2 separate regions of the Homo sapiens genome follow, and region 2 is linked to region 1. Evidence: fine-mapped expression QTL. A gene starts in region 1. The other region holds a variant in brackets. All regions are shown on one strand. Distances are between the middles of the regions.

Region 1 (5,000 bases):
CATGAGAGGTCTCAGGTGGCAGAGCTCCAGCACCAGGAGCATGAAGTTGTCCTTGAAAAAGCCACTGACACCTGAGATGTGCTGGTGGGCGAGGCTGCAGTGAGTATAGCGAGAGGCTGGAGACGTCTCCAGGGACGTCTCCTCTGGGTGCGGATTGAGCAGCAGTGACTCAGGTGCGATCTTGCCCGAGAACACCTCCTTGGTGTTTGCCTCCAAGATTTTGATGCTCTCAGCAAAGCCACCCTTGCCAAAAAAGCAGCCTGCCTGTAGTGCCACCGGCAGGTTTACTAGGACCTCCAAGATCTCTGCAGAGTGGCTGCTGGGACTCCAGGAGCCACAACTCCAGGGAGGCTTTCCCAGGGTTGGCTAGTGCCTGTGCCATCAGCTATTACTCTTTAAAATAACATTTCATTTGAATAAAGATTTACCTTCCCATGGAATTACAGATGCTTTATTCTGTATGTGAAGCACAAGTTTAGGAAGTTATTTTAGAACCAGAGTGGTGGGAATCCACCAGTGGTAGACCAGGATCCTGTAGCTCAGGCTGTCTTGGTAGCTCTCCAAGTAACTTCTCTCCCACACACCAGTCCCCTCAGTGTATAGGCATTCTCTGAAACTGGTGGTGGTGGCATTCTCTCCCCTTCTTTGGGGCCTCGCTGTCACATGATGGATGCCTGCAATCACTGTTCTACCCCAGTTTCCAGCTGTAGGGCCATGTATTCAATGGCATAGTGACTAAAGGGCTGTTCAGAGAACCCTGACCAAGATTAATTTACCTAAAGTTGGAACAGAAGGACATAGTCAAGTTTAAAATCAAATGCTTTGTGTGGTGGCAGAAGGGAGTGCCTTTGACGGTTTGCAAATGCAGAGAGGCAAGGATTCTCCAAAAGTTCAGAAAATCGTATGAGATCTGAGTCAGGAAAGGATTCAAGAATCCACCACCACATATTGAATCATATAGGAGCCGAGCACTTTATGAGTATGCTTTTTGTTTGTTTTTGAGACAAGGTCTTGCTGTGTTGCCCAGGCTGGAGTGCAGTGGCACAATCATGGCTCACTGCAGCCTCGACCTCCTGGGCTCAGGCAGTCCTCCCACCTCAGCCTCCCTAGTAGCTGGGACTGCAGGTGCACACCACCACACCTGGTAAAAACAAAACCAAACACAACTATAGAGACATGTCTCTGTTGCCCAGACTAGTCTCAAACTCCTGGGCTCAAGTGATCCTCCCGCCACAGACTCCCAAAGTGTTGAGATTACAGGCATAAGCCACTGCGCTAGGGCTTATGTGTGTACTTAATTTAACCCTCATCCTTTAAGGTAGATATTAGTACCCCTATTTTTTAAAAAAATTATTTATTTATTTTTAAGGCAGAGTCTCGCTCTGTCGCCCAAGCTGGAGTGCAGTGGTACGATCTCAGCTCACTGCAACCTCCGCCTCCCAGGTTCAAGCGATTCTCTGCCTCAGCCTCCTGAGTTGCTGGGATTACAGTCATGCGCTACCACACTCAGCTAAGTTTTTATATTTTTGGTAGAGCCGGCGTTTCACCCATGTTGACCAGGCTGGTCTGAAACTTCTGACCTCAAGTGATCCGGCTGCCTCGGCCTCCCCAAGTGCTGGGATTACAGGCGCGAGCCACCCCGCCTGGCTAGTACCCCTATTTTTGTAATGAAGAAGCTGAGGTACAAAGAGGTTAAACAACCTGCTCAAAATTACGAAGTAGAAGCCTGAGGTGGGGTATGGTAATTTGTGATTCTACATTTATCCACCATATTAAGTCAACTGTGTTAAATCATGTTGAAGGAAGATGATGCGCTGTGATCTGTAATATTGGTGCAGTTCAGCATTACCGTGGTGCAGTGTCAAGTTCCAAAAGACACAAAACTGTCTGATCGGCCTGTAGCGCATCACCGCCCACCAGCAGTACCTGAAGACGCTTTCAGTCCCCTGCTAGTGCCGTACGGAGTCCGGGCTGGTCCATTTACATTGAAAACAAACTGATCCTAGCATCTAAGTCACCCAGACATCTTTTAGGCGGCAAGCTTTTCAGACAGTTTAACACATTTATTCTTGTTTTTTCAAAAAGAGCAAACACGTGGCGTTACAAAGGTCCTCCGTTTCGCACGCACCGGTGTCCCGGCAGCGCGCTGCGCGTCGGGAGGCCCAGTCTGTCGTCCCGTGGGGCCGGGGGTCAGGAGGTCGGGCAGGCGGGATTTGGGGTTTCGCGTGTTCCGGACCGGACACTTCGCCATCTTAACGAGCTACCGCCCGGGTTAAGGGGCACCCAGGGCAGGTGCCCGGCCGGGGGTGGGGTGTCCGAGCCGCCGGTGCCTGGACGTGGACCCCTGCAGGAAGGGTCCGCGCGGGAAGCGAGCTCTCCACGAGTCCATGACAGCAGGCCCGCGGGGGCAGGGAGCCTGCGCCAGGCAGTCTTTCTAGATCCTGGCCCAGCCTGGCCGCTTTCGCGCCCGTGCTCCTTTTCGGGGATCCTAGAGCGACGCGCAGAGCGGACCAAGGGTTCCCCCAGCGCGTTCTCGCCGCCTGGCAGCTCGCTGGCCACGCCCCTCCGCTTCCACCCTGCCACCGGCCCCCGCCGCCGCAAATGTCGCGAGACCTTCGTCCATCCTCCCGGCGTGGTCCCGCTGCCCACGGCGTCCAGAGCGCGCACGCAAGCCCCGGGAGCGCGGGACAGACAGGGCACGCTGGGTCGGCGGAGCTGAGGCTCCCAGCTGTGGGCCTCGCTGGCCCGGTCGCCCAGTCTCGCGAGAGTTGGGAGTAAACAGCCCCGAATGGAGTGCCCAGGCGTGTTCGCCGCGGAGGCGCCGTTATCCCGGGCCCGCCGGCCCTGAGCTCCCGGCGGCGCAGGTACGTCAGCCGCCCGCGCGCGGCCTCCCCGACCCGCTCCGCCTAGCGGCGGCGGCCCGCTCGCTCAGGTGTGCCGGTTGCGTCCGAGGCCCCGAGGCGAGGGCTGCGGGGGCCGGGCCGGGTCGGGGGAGGTGGGCGCGGGGCCTCCGGCGCTTGTTTGGACACAGCGTGCCTGTACCGCGGCCCTGCGGGGGTCTGCGCGCTCCGGCAGCTTGTTCCGTTGCCTGGTTTTCTTTACGTGAAATGAGCATTCACCGAGTGAAACAATACGCCCTGCTCTGGCCCGGAGCCTCCAGACAGACTCAATTCTAGGTGCGCTTCCGGGGCAGTGCTGGCGTCAGGTTTAAAAGACGTCGATTCTTTGCCTTATCTCGGTCTGTGCATATTGCGCTGCTGGTTTTTGGAAATGCGGGGATTCTGTTCGGCGAACTCTCAGAACCAGATTGCCTTTTAAACCTGTAGCTTCTTAAAAATCTTGCCTCGCCTTGGCATGGTTGCGCTACCTAAGACCGTTGTGGATCGTCAGTATTTTTATTAAGATGTTTACCTTTCATATTGGGTTGAGCCCCTGAGAATCTTGGCCTATTTGTCTACACAAATTAAGTTATTAGATTCTGATTGACACTTCGAAATTACGTGGAGTGGAATACGACCTGCGTTGAATTCTGGAGACTCATCCTTTAGTCTGAACTGTGTAGGTAAGCCCTCCTAACGTCAAGGTCTCCAATTGTATGTCTACGAAAAGGAGGGCTTGCAGAAGAGAAGTAATTCCTCTCATTTTTTTTTTTTTCAATCTGGAGAATCCGCTTTTATTATTTATACTTATTTTTTAATGTAAGAGCTTCATTGAAGTAGAATTTACATACCATAAAATCCACCTGTTTTAAGTGTACTATTCAGTGGTTTTTAGTAAATTTACAGCAGCACAGCCACTACCAAATCCACTTTTAGAACATTTCCGTTACCCCAAGACCTCTGATGCCCAGTTGTAGTCAATGCCCATTTCCAGGCCCCGCCACAGGCAACCTTTCATCTACTTTGTCTTTCTAGATTTGCCTTTAATGACTATTTCGTATATTCAGATGGAAACATATGATATGCGGCCTTTTGTGTCAGGCTTCTTTCACTTAGCATGTTTTCACAGTTCATCCATGTTGTAGCATGAATCAGGATTTCATTCCTTTTATGACCAAATAATATTCAGTTGTATGGCTATACCACATTTTGTTTAAGCATTTATGCAGAACACTTTTGACAAATAAAAGTTTATTTTATGCTCTAATGTGTGATGCGGATGACAGCAAAACTGTTGATTGAGAATGGGAGCTGGGACCTGACCCAGACACGTGTCAAACGACTGCACTCCCCAGGCACCCCGTATAATCAAGAGTTGGTCCTTTCTATATAAAAAGGGAAAATTCCAATGCAGAGCTTGCGGAACCTTTGAAGCACCTAGGGAAGAAGTGGGAGCTCTTCTAGTCAGGAGGTTAACAAGAACTAGGAAGGCTGGGCCGGGCGCGGTGGCTCACGCCTGTAATCCCACAATTTGGGAGGCCGAGGCGGGCGGATCACAAGGTCAGGTGTTCAAGACCAGCCTGGCCAACGTGGTGAAATCCCGTCTCTACTGAAAATACAAAAATTAGCTGGGCGCAATGGCAGGCGCCTGTAATCCCAGCTACTCGGGAGGCTGAGGCAGGAGAATCCCTTGAACCCAGGCGGCAGAGGTTGTAGTGAGCCAAGATCACGCCGCTGCATTCCAGCCTGGGCGACAGAGTGAGACTATGTCTCAAAAAACAAAAAACAAAAAAAAACTTGGAAGACTGAAGGCTAAGGTGAACTGTACATTGCTGCCATCAGTGCTGCGGAATTCTGCTTGAGGAAACGCTTTATTTATTTTTATTTTTTTGAGACAGAGTCTCGCTCTGTCGCCCAGGCTGGAGTGCAGTGGTGGATCTCGGCTCACTGCAACTTCTGCCTCCCGGGTTCAAGCGATTCTCCTGCCTCAGCCTCCCGAGTAGCCGGGACTGCAGGTGCCCGCCACCACACCCGGCTAATTTTTGTATTTTTAGTAGAGACGGGTTTTTACCATGTTGGTCAGGCTGGTTTCAGACTCCTTGACCTCATGATCCGCCCGCG
Region 2 (5,000 bases), 60 kb after region 1:
AAGTTTGACCAGCCAGTGCTGTGCACACATCTGCCCATCTTCAAGGGAACGGTTCTGATTTTCTCACCCACCTTCAGCAATGGAAACACACATTGTCCGGGAGGAACCAATCAGGCGTGGCTCCTGCGGCTCATGGAGGATAGCTTAATAGAGCACAGGGGCTCTGTGCTGTGTTGTGGGAAAGCAGACAGACTCATAATAAGGCCCTCCTTTTTCCTTTGCATTTTAGTAATAGAGATGATTTTCCTTTTTGTTGATGTTGCTGCTAACCACAGGAAACCATCTTCATCGGTACTCCAAGGTTCTGGAGGCCCATTTGGGAGACCCAAAACCTCGGCCTCTACCAGCCTGTCCACGCTTGTCTTGGGCCAAGCCACAGCCTTTAAACGAGACGGCGCCCAGGTTAGTGTCCGCCTGTGCCCTTCCACTCTTTCCACGGGGCTTGTGAGTCATTGCTTTTCTTATAGGAGAGAATGGAATTTTACTGACATCACTATCGAATTGTCAGATCTTCAAGCTTGTCATTTGCGACAGTTATTTAGTGAACCTCGTATTGGCCTTTGGAAATAGGCTCTTTGGTGGTATCCTGCATAAAAAGTGCTTTGGATAATTAGCATTTTGTTACATTTGGTTAATTCTTTTTTAAAAAGCTGGGATCCAACAGAGTGATTTCATGGGAGCTGGAGCTCTAAGTCCTGTGGTTGGGGAGTTAAGAGCTGCCGGCTGCAGTGTGTTCCCTGTTTCAGACATTGATGATAAGATACAGATAGTTCCCTTCTTCTGTCATCCCCGGGGGCCGCGGTTGCAGCCTGTCCAAGAAGAGCATGCTTCTGTGTCATTACGTCCTGTGCTGACTGTGACTGGGGGTGAAAGCACCCGCCTCCGATGGCAGGCTGTGACCTCTGCTGCTGTCTCCACACTCCTGTTTGCAGTGCCGCCTGGATCCCTTCTCCAGCTCACTAACTCGGCTTCTTCATTTGCATCGTTTCCTTTCCGTACCCAGTGTTTGAGGTGGACCTGCTGTTTCCCTCTGTGGCTAGGACCAGCTCGGCATGGCTGGTCCCCTTTTTCTCCAGATGCCACCCCCTTACTTTTTCTGTGACGTCCCTGGCCCAAACAGGACAATATAAGAAGAAAGGGGGAGCTTCTCCTGAGAAAGGGGATGAAGCCAGGGACAGCTGTCAGAGCTGTGTCCGTGGCCGGGCAGGCACACCTCCCACCCCATCAAGCAGGAGTCTTGCCCTCCGAGGCCCCCTGGCCGCCTGGTACCCGGCCCCTCTCCCCAGCCCCTCAGGCAGGAGGCTACCCTCTTGACAGGCCCCCTGCCTGCCTTCTTTTCCTCCAGTGATGGTATGGGGCCAGGGACGGAGGCCACCTTCCGTCCTGTAAGGCGAAGAGGAGAGTGCCCGTGTGAAGGTGGCGAGGCTGCCTTCCGCCTTTACTCCTCATCATAAACCGAAAGTGCTGAACACACCACGCACTGACCGTATGTCTTCATTTCGAATATGCTTAATAGAACACAGGAAAATGGTAGAATCATCACATTGTCTCATCAGTAGCTTTCTTCCTGAACCTTAATCACTGGGTACTTTTCCATTCCAGTTCACATCTCATCATTTAAACATTTCTGATAAGTTTCCATTTTTGCATCTTATTTATTTATAACCTTCTATTAGCCTAGCATTCAAACCAGCATTTATATTCCAGCCATGGTCAGCAATTCATACTCAGTGAACAGTGTTAGCTGAATTTCCAGAAACCCAATTATTCTCCACAGTGTTGTTCAGGACTTGAAGCAGATAACAATATCCTTTCTATCCTTGGCTATCTACCTGTTCACATCAAATAATCCATCACATACTGAACCGGCCCATCCAGCATGTTGATAATGGACAGCTCCTGGAATTTGATTTTCACAATCACTCAGTAATTCCTTCTTCTCAGTACGCTGCTGGGTTTTACATTTATCTTGCTTTTCATATCTTGTTGAAAATTATTCTCGGTCCCCAGAGACCTAGATCGACGCATATTCTGAGTCTCCAAAAGAGATTTGAGACCAGGAGACAGCTCCAGATGCTGTCAGCCCAGTGCTGGGGGCAGGCTTCCATCTGTGAAGTGGAGAGGCGCTTTGGGCTTCTT[C/T]GTTGGCATCAGGTGCCCATACCTAGGGCAGCTGTGGAAGTGTCAGCGTCCTCCCTGAGAGGAACTCCTGCTCCGGTGGCTCCTCAGTCCTTCCGTCAGTATGCTGTAAAGCACCCACATGGTAATGGGTGTGGACTGTTACCATGACTGCTCCACTAGAAAGTGCCATCACCAAAGAATGAGATTCTGGAACAGGATATCACTGTTAGAATGGAAATATAGCCCATAGATATTCAGCTACAAAGTCATAAAGCCTAAATGTCATTGATTCCGTAACTTAACACTGTCAGTTTAACTTTCAGACTGATTAAGCCTGAAGTGTAAAATTAAATCCTATAAAATAGGGCGGGTTATAATGAGTGCTCATTGGCATTCAGGCAGTTGCCGAGCTGGGAGTATCGAGTGGGAGTCTCTCTCTTGCCTGCCTAGGGAACCTCTACTCAGACCAGCCCTTGCCCGCCAGCTTGGCGTTGACTTTCAGCCTAATTGCTGATAGGACTGGACGTCTTTGCTTTCACTTGCCCAAAGTGAAAGAGACAGGCTGACAGTTTCCAAATGAATAAATAACAGAAAAATAGAGAAATTTTAATTTGCAAACTTACTGTATTCTTCCCCCTCACTTAAGCCAGAGTAGTGTTTTTCCCATCGCGCTCTTCGCTCTAGCTCCGGTGTCCTCCCAAGCTCTGTGCTGCTGTTGCCAGCGTATCAACCTCTCTGTCTTCTTCGGGTCTAAGTTGTATTGGCCTGAACGAGTTTTTCAGATCCCAGAGTTAATAATGATACTGTGCACCACAGAGTGCAGGAATCGCACACGTTCATTTGATCGTCCCCCGCCTGCAGGCAAGGCAGATGGGGACCCCACGTTTTGCTGCTCAGACTCTCTCCCACTGTTGGTTCCTTGTATGTTTCGTATTCTCCCTGGAGACAGTGGTTTCTTCAGAGACAAAGATGCTGTCTGGTTCCCGGCACCAGTTTGCCCACTTCCTTATATGCAGTGGTTCTGGAATCACCATTGCCTCCGACTGCTCCAGGCCTTAGGGAGAGGACCTCGATAGCCCCAGGCTCAGGTCCACTCAGCAGGCTTCAGCTCCTCCCCCTGACAGGCTCCTTCCAGGGCCTCGCTTGGAGTGTCCTCCCGAGGCGCTTGGTCATGTTTAGCTTTATGCAAAAACAGGCTCCTGCTGGTCATATTGTAAACTCAGTAGAATCTCATGAACAGGGACTTGATTTTGATCTTTCTCCCTCGGGACGTGGAAACGGCCACCATAGTTGCTGTCAGTGGCATTTAGGTGGCCGTGGACGCAAATGGCATTTCACATCTCCCCGTAGATCACTTGCTCTGTCTTGAGTTTCAGTTGAACTTCCTAGACTAGTACCTAGACTAGTACAATGGCTTATTTTTGTTTTGTTTTAATCCATTTTCCTGAAGTAACCTTTGGAAACATCAGAAGCTACTCTCCATTGACCTGGACAAGGTGGTGTTACCCAACTTTCGATCGAATCGCCCTCAAGTGAGGCCCTTGTCCCCTGGAGAGAGCGGCGCCTGGGACATTCCTGGAGGTGAGTTCTCGGCTGCTTTGTGATTGTGCTCAGTCATCCTGTATTTTGTTCAAAGGAGTCTCCCTCCCTCCCCAGGAGGCGGGCCAGACTCTCCCTGTCTCTGCCTTCCTGGGAGCTGTGGTGGCCTTGGCTCTTGGCTTCTTTTGTGGCACAAACCAGCATGAGCAAGGGCAGGCCTGACAGATTAAGAGATTGTTGTTTCCCTTAGAAAATGCTACCTAGATTTTCACATTTGAATTTATTTTACAACGGCTGGGTGATCTACTTAAACATGTTCAAAGTAACTTGCACGCTCTTTATGAAAGTTCTGCCAGCCACCTATTAACGTCCCTTACAGGATGCCTGTCTGCTGGTTTGGGTCCCAGCCAATGGCAGCAGCCGCCCTGGCTCCCAGCCCTCAGCCCAGAAGGCCCCTTCAGTTCTCTGCCCTGCCCCCCTGGGAGGGACTTGACTGAGCTGGGGTGTGTCCCTTAGGTGGTCTCATCCTGTCTGTCTCTCCAGGGATCCTGACTGGCTACATAGACTGCCTAGGGCAGGTTCTTCTCCACTACCCAAGGCAATTGGTACCAGGCCTTTCCAGCCGAGCCTGGGCAGTTCTTTTGCTCTAGAGTCCCCTGTACTCTTCCAAAGAGTTTATAGCTACCAAGAGGAGTTTCTCTGGGTTCCAGGAATTGTCCAGAAATGGGATCAGGAAGGGGCACCCCTGTCTGTGCAGTCCAGCCCTGGACACCACGTGGTGGTGCCAGGGTCCTGAGGGCCTTGCGCATAGGTCACGGGGTGCGCTGAAGGTAAATTCCAGAGCCCTTGGCCTTGCCCAGTCGTATTGACATTCTGAACCAGGGTCCTCTGATGGCCTCTCCTGGCTTTCAGCCACACGTCCCCTCCATGAAGGGCTTTCCCAGAGGCGGGGCACTGCCAGCGGTGCTTCTTCCGCCACGCCCCCTTTCTCCTCCTCCCACTCAGCTGGAACCACAGGCCCCTCCTTCTCCCCTGGATAGAGACGTGCCCATCTTCCCTTGTGTTTAGAGAAACACAGAGCGCCTCTGGGCCTCCCTTCGGTAGGTTGTGACAGAAGCATAGCTGGGCCTGATCATCCGTCTGCGGGGATCCCAGGGAGGAAGGGCAGCAGAGATCCACCGAGCCTCCACCCCACAGGAAGTGGCTGCTCTTTGCTCTCATCCACTCTTTATTAATAGCCTGGGTTACTTTAGCTAAGGCTTAAAAATGATGTATGCCCTGCAAGCCCAGCTAGTGAAATTAGCTCGCATTTAGTTTCTGATGAATCCAGCCGTCATAGAAAA

The links.
Region 2: its variant is fine-mapped to the expression of MBTPS1 in blood mononuclear cells (TOPMed, PIP above 0.99).

Annotation. Positions count from the first base shown.
Region 1 is chr16:84,114,599-84,119,598 of GRCh38, reverse strand. MBTPS1 (membrane bound transcription factor peptidase, site 1) reads left to right here and starts at 2,657. Exons shown (of 23, transcript NM_003791.4): 1 at 2,657-2,864. It overlaps MBTPS1-DT (MBTPS1 divergent transcript), which reads right to left and starts at 2,556. Exons shown (of 1, transcript NR_186375.1): 1 at 436-2,556. It also overlaps the pseudogene LOC648774. RefSeq lists an enhancer at 1,927-2,086 and silencers at 2,237-2,336, 2,737-3,166.
Region 2 is chr16:84,054,704-84,059,703 of GRCh38, reverse strand. MBTPS1 (membrane bound transcription factor peptidase, site 1) reads left to right here. Exons shown (of 23, transcript NM_003791.4): 21 at 276-402; 22 at 3,569-3,699. Among named protein-coding and RNA genes, the nearest start is that of SLC38A8, 14 kb to the right of the region's middle. RefSeq lists enhancers at 3,278-3,870, 3,871-4,464. The variant C/T (reference allele first, on the strand shown) is at 2,140.